Linked DNA regions of Homo sapiens: region 2 is linked to region 1. Evidence: fine-mapped expression QTL. Tissue or cell type: whole blood. Region 1 holds a variant in brackets; the other region holds the start of a gene. All regions are shown on one strand. Distances are between the middles of the regions.

The links. PIP is the estimated chance that this variant, and not a neighbour inherited with it, causes the effect.
Region 2: it holds the start of ANKRD55, and the variant in region 1 is fine-mapped to the expression of ANKRD55 in whole blood (INTERVAL, PIP 0.98).

Annotation. Positions count from the first base shown.
Region 1 is chr5:56,144,838-56,152,947 of GRCh38, reverse strand. The region is part of intron 6 of ANKRD55 (ankyrin repeat domain 55); the gene reads left to right. It also overlaps the pseudogene RNA5SP184. Among named protein-coding and RNA genes, the nearest start is that of ANKRD55, 84 kb to the left of the region's middle. RefSeq lists a cis regulatory region at 3,978-4,478. The variant C/G (reference allele first, on the strand shown) is at 4,885.
Region 2 is chr5:56,230,111-56,238,203 of GRCh38, reverse strand. It overlaps ANKRD55 (ankyrin repeat domain 55), which reads left to right and starts at 4,874. Exons shown (of 12, transcript NM_024669.3): 1 at 4,874-4,963; 2 at 5,258-5,348. The coding sequence starts at 5,291.

The sequences.
Region 1 (8,110 bases):
AATTAAAATGATCATTCTTGTCTGTTTCTGCTTTTTCTTTTGATGTCTTTTTAAAGAAGGCCTTCTCTACCCCAAGAACTGGATTATGTTATGTTAAATTATGTTTTTGTTTGTTACCAGATTTTTTTTAATATATGGTTTCATTTTTGAACTCTTTGTTCTGTTCCAATGATCTGTTTGTTTTTCCTGTTTCATTAACCACACTGCTTAATTATAAACTGACTTATTTAGAAGTTATCCACACTGCGGTTAACACTGAAAAAAGCAAGATAGGTCAGATTGTCCTTTGTGCTTTTGTTCTTCAAAACAGGACCTCAGAAGAATCATTGACATAGAGTGAGGCTTGTCTGTTGCAGCTACCGGGAGTTAAATGGAAACTAACCTCTCCTGCTCTCATTTTAGCCTTGACAGGAAGAGTGTTCTATCAAGAGAGGCTCTGAGCTGTTGGCATCTGGGTTAGAACTTTGAATGCATTTAACCAGAGAAGCACTGTTATGCACAGCATTTAGGATATATATATTGTTTAGGATATATTAAATGCACATTCTTATGTAAGCAGATTTTTGTGAGCAGTCTGACAAACAAAACTTCAATTGTAGAACCACTCTGAGAAAATAAATTTAAGTTGCAAAAACAGATGTGACCTTTTGGACATAATTCTTAGCATCACTTCTACTTACCACATTCCTGAGATAGAACCAAAAGCAGAAGAAACAGTCCCTGACTTGAAATTTTTAACTTTACAGTTAGCAAAAGGTAACATAACAAACAAAAGTTTTTAATGAATCAGAAGTTTTAGCCTAAGACCGAACATCTAAAAAAAAAAAAATGGAGTAGGGTCACCACTACTTAGGAGCCCCCACCTCCCTCTCCCACTCTCCTCCAACCCTATAAACTTCTAGAGGCAGACCATGCCTTTTTTTATCTTTGTATCCCCAGTTTCTAGTTCAGTAGCTTGCACAAAAGCTTTAGTGAGGCACAAAAATTTTTTATATATATATACACACACATATATACATATATACATATATGTGTATATACACACATATACGTGTGTATGTATATGTATATATACACACGTATATATACATATATATACACACACACATATATATATATAGATTTTTTTTTTTCCGAGATGTGGTCTCACTGTGTCACCCAGGCTAGAATGCAGTGGCACTATTTTGGCTCACTGCAACCTCCGCCTCTTGGGTTCAAGTGATTCTCCTGCCTCAGCCTCTTAAGTAGCTGGGATTACAGGTGCCTGCCACCATGCCCGGTTAATTTTTGTATTTTTTGTGGAGATGGGGTTTCACCAGGTTAGCCAGGCTGGTCTCGAACTCCTGTCCTCAAGTGATCCACCTGCCTCGGCCTCCCAAAGTGCTGGGATTATAGGCGTGAGCCACCACGCCCAGCCTAGATATATATTATATCTAGATATGTTATATCTAGGGAGAAAGAAAGAATTAAATTCAAGAAAAAGTCATGTTATTTTATTTTATGGCCCTTTCTTCTTTTGTTTTGTTGACTCAGCTATCCAATTTATTTCCCAGACTTGACTCCAGGTGACTGTTATTTCCAAAACCTACTCTCAAAAAACTAAGATTTTCATGGTATTAGAGGTGTTTATGAGATATAAATAAGTAAATAAAATTTTATACCAATTAGAATTTTTTAAAAATGTCCTGTAGACTTTAGAGCAGGAGTCCTTACCCATATTTATGACATGGACACATCTTCATGTGTTTGTGAAACCTATGGATAACTTCTCAGAAACATACCTGAAATTAGGCTGGGTGCAGTGACTCACACCTGTAATCCCAGCCCTTTGGGAGGCCGAGGCAGGAGGATTGCTTGAGCTCAGGAGTTCAGGATCAGCCTGGGCAACATGGCTAAACCTCATCTCTATTTAAACTTCTTTTTAAAAGGAAAAAAATATCAAAAAGGAAAAATATCTGAAATTACAGAAAATGAAACATATAAGATTGCGAAAGAAATCAAAATATTAAAATACAGCTATCAAAACATTCTTTTATTTATTTATTTATTGAGACGGAGTCTCGCTTTGTCGCCAAGGCTGGAGTGCAGTGGTGCGATCTCAGCTAGCTGCAACCTCCACCTCCAGGGTTCAAGTGATTCTCCTGCCTCAGCCTACCGAGTAGCTGGGATTACAGGCACCCACCGCCACACGTGGCTAATTTTTGTATTTTTTAGTAGAGGCGGGATTTCACCATGTTGGCCAGGCTGGTCTCGAACTCCTGACCTCAAATGATTCATCCACCTTGGCCTCCTAAAGGGCTGGGATTACAGGTGTGAGGCACCACGCCCAGCCTATTTATTTATTTATTGAGACGGGGTCTCACTCTGTGAGGCCAGAGTGCAGTGGTGCAATCTCAGTTCACTGCAACCTCTGCCTCCCAGGCTCAAGTGACTCTCCCACCTCAGCCTCCCAAGTAGCTGGGACTACAGGCGCATACCACCATACCCAACTAATTTTTTTTTTTTCTGTAGAGGCAGAGTTTCACCATGTTGCCAAGGCTAGAAAACATTTTAAAGACCAAATTTATGATAATAACATATAAGGTTGTTTATTAATGCGTTAAATAAGATTTGATGGTAGGAGCACAAACTGCTACAATTGTTGAAGTAGTGAGACATGTAGTGATCTGCAATCACTAATGTAATAGCACTGTACCTATAATTTATAGAGGTGGCAAAGTCACAGGTACTGTTTATACTACTGTGGGTTGTTGCCTATATTCATAATTGAAAAAGATGTTAAATTTCAATTAGAAGTTAGTGAAAATAGGCCGGGCGCAGTGGCTCACGCCTGTAATCCTAGCACTTTGGGAGGCCAAGGCAGGCGGATCATGAGGTCTAGGAGTTCAAGACCAGCCTGGCCAATATGGTGACGCCCATCTCTACTAAAAATACAAAAATTCAACGGGCGTGGTGGCTCGCACCTGTAGTCCCAGCTACTAGAGAGGCTGAGGCAGGAGAATCTCTTGAACCCAGGAGGTGGAGGTTGCAGTAAGCCGAGATGGTGCCACTGCACTCCAGCCTGGGTGACAGAATGAGACTCCGTCTCAAAAAAAAAAAAAAAAGAAGTTAGTGAAAATAAAGATGTAATTATTTCTCTGATGAAACTCACACATCCTTATTTCTATCCATGGATAGAGCTCTTGCTCTAGTGGCAATTTCCAAAAAAAAACCTCCCAAAAGTATTTTGAGCAATGAGTAGAATAATTGTATAGCCTCCCAAGGTGATCTCCTTGGAACAGGAAGATTGTTTTATTTTAATTATTCAACAAATATTTGTTCAGTACCTGCCATGTCTCATGTGGGCTTCATCCCTGCTATGATGGAGTTCACAGTTTAGTGCAGAAGAATGTAGATGTTCTTTTTTTGTTGAAAATTAAATCTATCAACTTAGGCTTCTATTCTGAAGGCTTTGTTTTATAAGTTTGTTCTTGTTAGAATTGGCTCCTAGACTTCTATGGCCTAAGTTCGTTTTATTGTTTTTCTTGTCTGATTTAAATTATGAAAACTCCCATTCTAAAGTCTTTTTTTAAAAATGTCAGACATATTATTCTTATAATTATTACAGGGAGAAAGTGAGAGTTTTTAAAGAGTGTCGTTATTAGCAGCCCTTCCTAGTGCCCTAAAATCCAACCTCAGAGTATTCTTGGCCTTCAGTTACAGTCTTTGGCTATCGTGATGCTCACCGTCTATCTACTCAGTTTAGGAAATTCCAAAACAAAGACAATGAATTAATTTACTAAGCTTTCTGATGTATAAGATTGTTTTTCAAATAAAAATGAAAGAAAATGGCTTTCATTACTGTACTTGTAACACCATCTAGTTTTTAAAACTAGATCTACTTTTAAAGTACATATTAATTCCAATTTTTTATCTAAGGGAGACCCTCTATCACTTTTGTTGGGGGTGATCATATATGATTAGAGGATTAAGTATGTTAATTTTTAAATGTCAACCAGAGCCAAGCTGCTGGAAATTCTAGATCCTTCAAAGCATCTGGAATTGTTTACTGACCTCTCAGCCAGCAGACACCTGCTATAATTCTTAACCCTCCCCCTCCACCACCCCACCCCGAACCGCCAACCAAGACGGGGAACAAACCAAGCACCCAGCCACATCAACATTTCTCTCTGTGTGCCTTTCAGTGTTGTCTAGAGACACTCTAAAAGTACAGTTCTGAAACATGAAACCTGCTAAGCACTAAAGCAGATTTCTGGTTCAGAAAACACAAAAGTGGTTTTGAAAAAAAAAAAATGTTCTGAGAAGCTGATAGGACTTGTAAGCCTTTAACTGAAATTGTGGTGGCACAGGTTCAAGGCGCAGAATTACTCATCAACACAAGACACTGTTCCAAAGCAACCCTACTATGCACCCAACAGTTAGAACATACATTTTGTCTTATCAGCAATCTAAAATCAGATCCCAAGTCAACCAAAACTTAACATTTCCCCTCAAAACATTCTGGAGAGCTTATATTTTTAACTGAATATGTGTTCCTCCTCACTCTTTGAGCCAATCAATACTTTTTGATTTTCAGAAGAGTAGAATTCTCCCGTCACCAGGGCCATCTGGGTGTTTGTTGCAACATGCCTGATAGTGACTGCTAGATTGTCAGCTCCTAGATGCTTCGAAGGCTCAGTTTATCCCTCAGTGAAACTCCAGGAAGTAACTGGTTGGAAAGGTCTCCATAACTTGGACACAGATGGCTGTCTTATCCAACAGACTCTGATTTTATATTCCCTATGAGTCCAAGTGATCTTTGATAAGCTGCAATTCACTAATTAATTCTTCCAGTAAGCATTTCTTGAACACTTACTGTGTGCTCAGTGCAGGGAGCATACCATG[C/G]TGAATATGCCACAGCATCTGCCTTTATGTGCATCACAGCTTAATCGTGATTTCTGTCACTGCTTAGTACAGATACCAATTGCTAAGCCTGATGTTTGCCCCTTAACTGGTCACCAGAATTTTAACATAAGACAACTACAATTTCTGCGGGCCCAACAGAAGTTGAAGAAAGAAGAAGAAGAAAGGAGAAGGAAGCAGTTGTAGGAAAATGTTCCTAAATAAAGTGTGCAATACCAACCGCTGCCTTTGAGCTGCTTTTGAAAGCTTTGGTTTTCACATTATTAACTCTAAGAGGATTTATTCTTATTTCTCATCAGCCCAAATGAAAAAAAGAAAAAGAAAAAAAAGCGGCAGGAAATTTCCCTTTACTTGACTGAGTGTTCACAGCCCATTTATATTGCACAAGTATTTAGAAAAGTAATGAAGTAATTTGGGTCTTGATTTGGAGCCATTCAGAGGATCACCAGTTATTTTCAAGATGTTCTCAAGTTTTGTGGTGACGGTGAACTGGGTGGGAGAATATGTATTATGTATGTGTATATATCTTATAAAAATAAATGTTTGCCAACTGCACTTTCAGGAGGACCCTTGAGGCAATGCCAAATGAAACAAAAATATAGGGTACCAATCCTTACACTAGTAAGAACCATCATTTTAGAAAGTAAGACAACCTTGAATCCAGCTACAATTACAAAGAAAGGAATTTTTTAGCATCTGAGCTCATTCCCAAAATGAAATTCTACCACCATGATGTGTGGAAAGAACATTTTTTTCTCCAGAGTCAGAGAAACAAGTATTGAACCCTAGCTCTACCATGGACTCAGTCAATGGCCTTAGGCAAATTACTTAATCTGTATTTCAGTTTCCTTGCCTGTAAAATAGGCTTAAAACTACTAACCCCTTAGGATCATGTAAAGATTCTATGAGATAGAATATACAAAGCTCTTGGCACCAAGTAGGTGTATGAAAAATGATAGCACTCCTCCCACCCCACCCCTTCACCAAACTATGCAAGAGTTGGGTTTTGTGGGGGGGTTTCTTGCGGTTGTTTAAAGAGAATAACTCTTAAAGTCTGAAACTGTATTTAGGAGACAATAATTAACACTGCATTACCATTGTTTAATTCACAACCACATTTTCGCACTGAATTCCCACATCTCTAAATCATACTTCTGCATATACTCATTGCCATCTACCTCACGTTTGACAGTGCAGTGGTCTATGGCCAGAACCACCCTGAACGCACCTGACCTCAGAAGTTAAGCAGGGTTAGGCCTGGTTAGTAATTGGATGTGAGATAGTACAGTAGTACAAAGGACAAGATTGTTTGGAGCACTCATCAAAAATCCTGACAAGTTTCAGCTAATGAGTTGGTAACAATGATCATATCAGACAAGTTCATTGTCTATAAAGGAGAGGTCATGTTCTGCCTTTCTTCTGTGTATGATTTTAAAAAGCAAAGCCAAATTTTTACGAAGAAATTCGGCCGGGTGCAGTGGTTCACTCTTGTAATCCCAGCATTTTGGGAGGCTGAGGTGGGCTGCTAAGGTCAGGAGCTCGAGACCAGCCTGGCCAACATGGTGAAACCTGTCTCTACTAAAAACTACAAAAATTAGGCAGGCGTGGTGGCGGGCACCTGTAATCTCAGCTACTTGGGAGGCTGAGGTAGGAGAATCCCTTGAACCTGGGAGGTGGCAGTTGCAGTGAGCCGAAATTGCGCCATTGCACTCCAGCCTGGGCGACAGAGCGAAACTCCATCTCAAAAAAAAAAAAAAATCAGTGGAGCATAGTAAGTCATTCGTTCCGTTAATAAGTGTTTACTCAGCATCTATAATGTGCCTGGCACCATTCTAGGATCTAGGAATTCAGACTGGCAAACAAAGGCCCTGCTCTCATGCAACTTACGCTCCAGTAACTTGAAAAGTTTTGGCACTTCGTGATGAAGCCAATGACTTCATTTCATCACTTCATTTGCAATGAAGCAAATGGGACTAAGAACTGGGAAACGGGCTATCCATGCATTATTTTTAAAATATAATTTAATTTTAAAATATAATTCCCTTGTGTTAGATTTCTAACCCCAGTGTGCCCAGTTAAAAATGAAGAGGACCAATTAGAATGTACTGAGGTATTCTGATTTCCAAGTAAATATTCAGCTATTGGAATAAGAATAAGAAGTTCCATTGCTTTTATACCAGCATTGTTTTTCATATGGAACCAATTTCTTGAAATATCCTCAAGAGTATCTCTGGAGGTTCACTGTCATATGATACTTGAAACTTGAAAGCAAACCATAATATAGGAATTTAAAATATGGAACTGGTTGAAGGGATTTTCTAATTCTAGTGTCCCACAAACCTTAAACCCTAGATTCAGTTCCATGCTACTCACAAACTCAGGAATTTCTCTAGAGCTCAGCTTCCTCTTCTATTAAATGAGAAGTACAATGGCACCTATCAGAGCTGGCTAACTGCTCTAGCAAACGACTTGAAATCTCAGTAGCCTGACACAATAAAGGCCTATTTCTTGCTCATATCATAATCCAGTGCTGTTTGGCAGGGTGGTCCTATTCTCCCTCATTGATCAGAAACCCAGGCTTTTCAATCACATGATTCCAGCATCTTCCAGAGCCTTGTCCTCCTCTGCATTCTGTTGATATATGAGGAAAAAAAGAAGATGTGGAGGACCACATGGGCTTTTTTTCTAGCCCAGGCCTGGGGAAGGTTTCCATCTCCTCTGTCCACATTCCAATGGCAAGGACTCAGTCATGTGGCTGCACCTATCTGCAAGGAGGCTGGGGAATGTAGTTTGACTGTGTGCCCTAGGGGAAGAGGAAACAGCTTGGTGAACACGTAGGAGACATCACCACAGTACTTACTCCAGAAGTTTGTTTGGAGGATTAAGTGAGACAATAGATAAAAGAACTCATAAAGGTCTCTAGATCAATAAATATTAGCTCTGCGCTATTATTAATGTGCTCCTGTCTAGGCTGAGGCCCATCTTCTCCATGCAGCTCACCCTGGAAGGAACAGAGAAAGCCAAGGTGTTGTCTCCTAGCTTTATGCTATCAGCAGAGATAACTATAGAAAGAGAGTCTTCAAAGCTGCCCATGCCCTTTGCCCCCTTTATCAGGCATCTTCATTTCAATTCATTCTAGATACATTTCATGGAATTGAGATGAGTGAGCAAGGAGAAGAGCCAATCTTTTCATCATATATACGTTCAG
Region 2 (8,093 bases), 85 kb before region 1:
TGATTGGCATATGTTGAATCAACCTTGCATGCTAGGGATAAAACCCACTTGATTATGGTGGATTAACTTTTTAATGTGCTACTAGATTCAGTTTGCTAGTATTTTGTTGAGGATTTTTGGATTTATGTTCATCAAGAATGTTGTCTTGTCACCTGAAATAAACTGTTTCTGGTGGTCTTTACTAATAGGTATTGAGAGGAAAAAGCATTTGCCAGAGCAGTAACTGCATACTATGTACCAGAGAGTGTTTTAATTTGCTCAAGGAATAAAACCATATCTGAACAACAGCTGCAATTGGAGTTGCCACCTGGTTAAGCTTACTATAATCCACTGTTATTCTCGAAGATCCACCTGTCTTCTGCCAAATTGGAAAGCATATTGGAGAGTTGAATGGAGATGTGGTGGGAATCACCACCCCTGCATCCTTCAGGTCCTTTATGACCTCTACAGTTCCCCCAGAAATGTCGTATTGCTTTTGGTTTAGTATTTTCCTAGGTAGACACAGTTCTAGTGGCTTCCACTTGGCCTTTCCCACCATAATAGCCCTTACTCCACGATTCAGGGAACCAATGTAGAGATTCTGTGAGCTGCTAAGTATGTCTATTCTAATTGTGCATCCAGAACTGGGGAAATGACCACAGGATGGCATTGGGGCCCATTAGACCCACTGTGAGATGGATCTGAGCTGAAATCCCATTGACCGCATGACCTTCAAAAGTCCCTCCTCTGACTGGCAGGCCACAGTGATATTTTGAGTCTCCTGAAATTAGTGTCAGCTCAGAGCCAATGTCCAGTAAGCCCTGAGAGGTCTGATTATTTCTCTTTTCTCAATGCACAGTTACCCTAGTAAAAAGGCCATACATCTCTTTTGGGGAAAACTGAGAGAAAGATTAACAGTATAAACATTTAGTAGGGTACCAGGGCCTTTCCTCAAGGGCTCCAGCCTCCCCTTCATTTAAGGGGTTTTAGGTTTGTAAACAGGCTCAATTCTGGGAATTAATTGAGGGATCATGATTCTCTGTTTTTATGATTCGTGTTAGACTTTTGTCACTTAACCTAGAGCTTTTCTGCTTATGCAGATTAAGAATTTCATAGGCTTCCTATCTATTTTACTTTGAGAAACGCCATGATCAACTAGCCAATGCCATAGGTTTCTATGACTCAGACAACTCTGATTGCTGCTTGGACCTCTGCTGTCCATTACAGCATAAACCAAAGAGTGACTGAGGTAGATCTTAATTGACTGCAGGTTTATTTTGCCAAGGTTGAGGATGCAACCAGGAAAAAGAAACACAGGTCACAGTGGGATCTGTGACCTGGGCTTTTTCCAAAGAGAGTTTTAGGAACTTCAGTATTTAAAGAGGACAGAGCAAGCAGAAGAGGAGGGAAATAAAGGAGAGAGGATAGGCAATGAAACAAGTGGTCACCTTTTTGTGAGGCTCTGATTAGCACTCAGTGAGTCTACATATTACATGTGGAAAGAGGGAATAGAGTTGGCCGGGCGTGGTGGCTCATGCCTATAATCCCAGCACTTTGGGAGGCTGAGGTGGGCAGATCACCTGAGGTCAGGAGTTTGAGACCAGCCTGGCCAATACGGTGAAACCCTGTCTCTACTAAAAATACAAAAATTAGCCGGGTGTGGTGGTGGGGGCCTGTAATCCCAGTTACTCGGGAGGCTGAGGCAGGAGAATTGCTTGAACCTGGGAAGCAGAGATTGCAGTGAGCCGAGATCACACCACTGCACTCCAGCCTGGGCAACAGAGCAAGACTCCGTCTCAAAAAAAAAAAAAAAAAAAAAAAAAAAAGAGGGAATAGGGGAAAAAGCAATTACACATTTCTCTCATGCCCAGTAACTCTACATATGATAAAGTCAGCATGTGAAAATACAGCTATCTGTTTGGGAACGAAAGAAGACAGCTTTTTGCATGACTCAGTTCTCAAGCTTAAATTTCCCTGTGGCATAGTGAATTTGGGGTGCCATGATTCTATTTTTTTTCCACAACAGTAACTATGCCCACCTTGTCTTTGGCAGTTGAGTACCACCACTTAGCCCTACCATCCTAGGATCCAATTATTCCCACTGCATTTAGGTTTCCCAATTCAATGACTGCAGTTCTCACTGTCTGCAGAGAAGAGCAATCACAGAACTCTTCAAAGATGCTGGGGTTCCCCTCACAGATTTATTCCTATTCCTCACGGTACTGCTAAAAGTATGTCTTCTAGACCCTCCAGTGTGGGTGAGTAGTTCTTAAATGACAAATCCACTCTGACATTCCAATCTCCCTAAGCCTTTGAATCTCTTCCACATTAAACCAAGGCAAGTCCAGTATTTCCAATTTGCTCACCCTGGGCCACTTTTTGGTCCATGTTTCAACCCACTAACCTGACTGTTAGAACACTTTATAACTGCCTGAGCTGCAACAGTAAATGCAGAATTTCTGCTTAATTAGTTAATATCAATAAATTCAACCTGATCTAACTTTATGTTCCTTTCACCATTATTTCACTCCCTTAGTATCCATTCCCATGTTTCCTGGATTTTTAGGAAGTTCAAGTAATTATTTTGGAATATAATGTACTTCATGGGTCACACTTTGCACCTCACCTTTAGGGGCTGCTGGGACTTGAGTCTAGTTATAGGTCTAGAAGCAGAGGAACAATGGTGGTGGCTCCTGAAGAGAATCAGCATTGTTGTGCACGGCAGCTGCCTCAAGGAAGGCCAATACAGTTTCCTCAGGCAATTCAGAGTCAATCTTCTCAGACTGAGGTGAAAAGGCTGCTACCACTGGAGATGGGGAGGCTGCTTCTACTAGGGATTGGGAGTCCACTTCCACTGGCAAAGAAGACTCCTCAGAGTTTAGATGCTCAGTGTCCCCCAGCTTCATCAGGGTCTTCTCACATGTCTCTATCCAATTTACAGTATCCTCTACTTTCCCAATCAATGTCCTCACTTTAACAGCAGACATCCTGTGAAGCTGGGAGTTTGACTTGCGCTGTAATTCAGGAGTTCAATTTGCATTGTAATTCAGGCAGCTGCAGCATGAGAGCCTGCATTTGATTGCAGCATCCTCAGCCTCATGGCTACAGGAGGTAAGACTCTCCTTCAGGGTACACATACACACCTCCAGGTCATCTATATGGCACCTGAGCTGGGAATTAGAATCCGTGAGCTAATCCTTTTCTTTCATCACTTTGTCCAGTGACATTAGGAGCAACCAGCCATATTCATTAAGTTTCCAAAAATGTTTGAGGGTATCATCTACACAGTCACCCAACTCCTTGCCTGTTGTGTCCAGTGATTAATTAGGAATATTCAGTGCAGCTTTTTGCATATCTCTATTACCACTTCACACCATGGACTATCAATGCTCTCTTTACTCCTAGAAATAAAGCTATTAGAATCCTTAAATTTAATCAGATTTGAGAGCCAATTCCAGAAACCCTAGAACCAATCCTCAAGTACATGGTTTCTTGTTTAGACTAGAAAATTTCAAGGACTACAGAAGTTCTTGTCAGAAAGTTCTTACCCCATGAAGGATGGTTAATTGGGTTCCAATGTTACAATGTCAGTGAGCAGGTTGTCAGCTTGAGCAAGGAAAGTTCTTCAGTGAAGTTTCACTCATGCACTGAAATGTACTGAGCACCTCCTTTGTGCCCCTCTCTGTGCTAGGCTGTAAGGACATGGAGTGGACAAAGCAGACAAAGAAAGAGTAGACAAAGACCCTGCCCTTATGAAATGTACCCTCTTGTGGAGAAATATTTTAATTTGGGTTTCCGTAAAAGCAGACCCTGAGACAATGATTCCAATGCAAGTAACTTATTGAGAAGTGCAGGAAATATCAGTAGGAACGTGGGAAAGTAATACAGGGAGGGAACAGCAGCCCATAAAAAGAACGTTATTAGACCTATTCTCACAGGTGGCAGTGGAGTTTAACCCTGAAGGAGTTTAATCCTGAAAGGGAAATGGCAAACGGAGTAAAACACCATGCCTCAGAATCATCCTATCCAAGGGCAAAGGAAGCTGGTGTTTATTATTAGATTCAACAAGCATCTACTATATGGCTATTTGACTTATCCAAAAATCTGGTTGTGCCTAGAATATAGAACTTTGTTTGAATTTAGTATATCATATTTTTATTACAAATACAAGATAATAGATACTGGTTATTAACAAGCCAAAAATACAGAGATTGATACAGAACAAGTTAGAAATCTCCTACTCTAATCACAGTGGCCTGAGGGAACCAATATTAGCAGTTTAGTACGTATCTTTCTACATCTTTTTCAGTGTTCGTCTGAATATATAAAAATAATGTATACAGTGAGTGGTTTCCGGTTTTATTAAAACACGAACAAATGAAATATATAACTTGTTTATTTCATTTAACAATAGATTAGTGACATGTCACCAGATAAATACACAGATTTATTTATGTCAGATTTTTAAATCTAGAGTACGAATTTACTACCATTTACTTAGCTGCTCCCTGAATGAGGTACATTCGGGTGATTTTTCAGGTTTTACTACATGTAATGCTACAATAAACACCCTTGTGACAGCAGACTGTTTTAATTTTATCACCACAGACACTCGAGCCTTGAAATGTCACCTTTCAAATGACGCCTTTCCCCATCCTCCCTGTCAATTGGAGAACGGAGCTGAAAGGGGAGTGAAGAAGACTGCCAACATGGATAATTACTCCACACAGCACATGGCCAGCAGCCTCCTGCTACAATATTTACATCCTATTCCATTGAGATGGCACTCTCTGCTCACATGACCCAAATGCAGTTCTCACTCCGCCAAAAGCACAGCCGAATGCGAACTGCATTGGCAGCTTTGCACATGCTCTGTCTGGCCCTGTGAATCCTCACTCACCCATTCAGATTTCTGTTGGTGTAAAGCGACATTCCAGCTGCTGAAGCTCCGTGATCTGCTGTGTTTTTCCAGCCCAGATCCAAGGCAGGTGGCCCATACAATTTTACTATCTTTTTGGAGTTTGAGTAATTGTGTTTATTGATTTGGGGGTGGAGGGTGTATTATGCCCATGTACAGCTGATGAATGAGGCCATAGAGTAACTCTTTTCCTAGCAGGTATTTACAGGAATAGCATTTACCTATTTTCATCACCTTGCCTTGACAACAACCTGCAGCTCTGATGCACATTTAATCCTGAAACAGAGGTCTTGGCAAACGATGCTGCCTCTGACTGTCATGTTGACAGTAAGGTTTGAGATGGTGTTTTCTCCTCTCTAGAGACCTGGATGCTTTTTGCCATTCTGATGGTAAATGATGAGACAGGCTACCATGGATTTCAGCACCCCTTCTGTGTTTGATCAGCAAAGAGGTAAAATGCTGCTTTAACACATTCTTTGGTTGTTAGCATCCTTAGTCTCATGGTATGGATTTACAGTTGTAAGGAGAGAAAGAGAAGTGTGTGTGTGTGTGTGTGTGTGTTCATGTGCGTGGGTGTGCATGAGTATTTGCTATGTAGGATGTGGAAAGAGGATTTCACCTAGAAAACAAACCTGTTCAAAATGTTCACTTCTAGTTTGATAAGCATCTGAAACAGAAAAATAAGCTTATGATCTGTTGTATAAGCTTATGATCTTGTTGAAGTATTCCTACCTTCAAATTTTAAAAACTGGATTTCAAGCACACCAACTATTTCAGATAGTGTCATCTTTATTCTGTTTTTTCCAAATCTTTTTTAAAAATTAGGGTAAGCAATGTAAGAACACATCACATTTTTTTTGTCATTCGATTAGCCCAGTATCTCATTGCTGTATCTTCGTAAGCATTTTTTTATTCCTTTCAGGAATAGATGTTGCCTGTATTTATGTCGGGTTGATATGTTATCTCATCCAAGGTTGTGTAATGACATATCCCTATGCTATTATTTGCAATGCCAGGGTATATCTTCCTTACTTATAATTTCTGGAGTGGAGGTAATTTTCCACATCAAAATGTTGCTGTGAGATCAACTTATCCTTATAATATCACATATTTGGCCATGTGGTCTATGTGTATACATTTTGCATATGCAATGTGTTTATATACATCTTCGTGTAATACTTATGTGTAATAGTAAATCTTTTTTTAGTATAAACATGAAATTTCCATTTTATAAACATAATAAATATTTTTTAGAATCTTTTCTTAAATATCTATTATTTAAACCACTTTCTACAGTCTCTGAATATTCTTCAAGATCCTAAGTTCCTTTGGTGATTTTATCTGTTTTGGCTACAACATGAAATGGTGGTTTGAAAAAGCCTCATTAAGAAAATGTACTGCTTCATTCTTTTTTCCCTTTTCCTGCTCTAGGCCATAGCATGTTTATTACCCCTCAAGCTACATCTGGCTTTGTGGGTGAATTATTTTAGCCCAGGGGGTTTCTCCAAAAATAAATTTATATTTAGATTCCTGAGTTAGCTAATGTATATATGTGTATAGTGTGTTCTCCAGGTCTTAGCTCATTTGGAATAGTGTTTGTGTATGTGTATGTGTGTGTGTGTGTGTGTGTGTGTGTGTGTGTGTGTGTGTGTGCGCGCCTTCAGAACGTGCCGGCTCATACCGTGTTTGGATCTGAACAGCATAGAGAAAGGCGTTGTCACAGCTGTGCCCACCACCATCCTCTCCTCCTGGTACATTTTATATCACTGATGGCAGTCAGTAAAAGTGAAAATCTGCTAAGAACCAAAGAGCTCACACTGGCTGAAAAATGATGTTGCTAAGCCACGAAACATACAATGGGTTTATTTTTGAAGACTAATTGGAGGGAGCTGGGACTGACTGAAGAAGAACTAGCTCTTCATAATGAATTTACATGTTCCAGTGCTGTACCTTCTAACAGGATTGAGCCCCAAACATAGTTAAGATACAGAATTACAAGACTGATTTTCTTTTAACACCTTTCATGTGAGCAATTCACAGCAATTCCTCCACCTGGGCCGGATTCTCTCCCATGGAAGTTAACCCTCTCCCTGCCATCTTTATCTCTATTTCTCAATCCTTTCTCTCTTTCTAGAGGTTTTATCATATGATGGAAAGAGCATGGGATTTTAAATCTTATAGACGTAGATCAGAATGGCAGATCATCTACTTCTTAGCTGTGTGACCTTGGCAAGTTACCTAACCTCTCTGGGCCTTAGTTTCCCCAGGAATACAATGAAGGAAATGATGCTTACCTAGCAGGGTTGTTGTGAGGATCTAAAATAATAACATATAAAAAGCACCTGTTAGCAATGCCTGATATTCAATAAGTATTTTCCCATTTTGGCTGCAGCTGTTATTATTATTGCTGTTGTTATTATCACCTTGGACTGGGAGTTTCTGAAGTGCAAAAGACTACTCATCTCTCTACCTTCAGCCTGAATGTAGCAGTCCTCAGATCAAATGAGGGCTTAGTGCTGGATGACTAAATTACATTAATTATTTTTTTCAGAACCCTAGGATACCATTTATAGCAAGACCTAGAATAATAATTAACTAAGCCATTCCTGAATAGTTTTATTACCCATTAATCCTTCCTCTTTCTTAAAAGCATGAAAGACCATGAGGGTTGAGACCATTATACAGATTTTAAATACTATATTGTTGGACAAACCAAAGGGAGGTGACTTTCTCGGGAAAAGTTGAACATGGGGCTTTAGTTGAGGGTTTTTCATGAATCGTTACTGTCTGGATAAGTGAACCCTAGCAGTACTGTCTTTACATGCAGATGGGGACAGAAGACATTGCAGCTGGAAGAATCTTAGCAATCAAGTAACCTGTTGGTTCTCACATTGGCTGTACTTAAGAATCATCTGGGCCGGGCGCAAGGCTCACGCCTGTAATCCCAGTGCTTTGGGAGGCCGAGGTGGGCAGATCCCAAGGTCAAGAGATCGAGACCATCCTGGCCAACAGGGTGAAAGCCTGTCTCTACTGAAAATACAAAAATTAGCTGGGCATGGTGACACACGCCTGTAGTCCCAGCTACTCGGGAGGCTGAGGCAGGAAATCGCTTGAACCTGGGAGGTGGAGGTTGCGGTGAGCTGAGATCAGGCCACTGCACTCCAACCTGGCGACAGAGCAAGACTCTGTCTCAAAA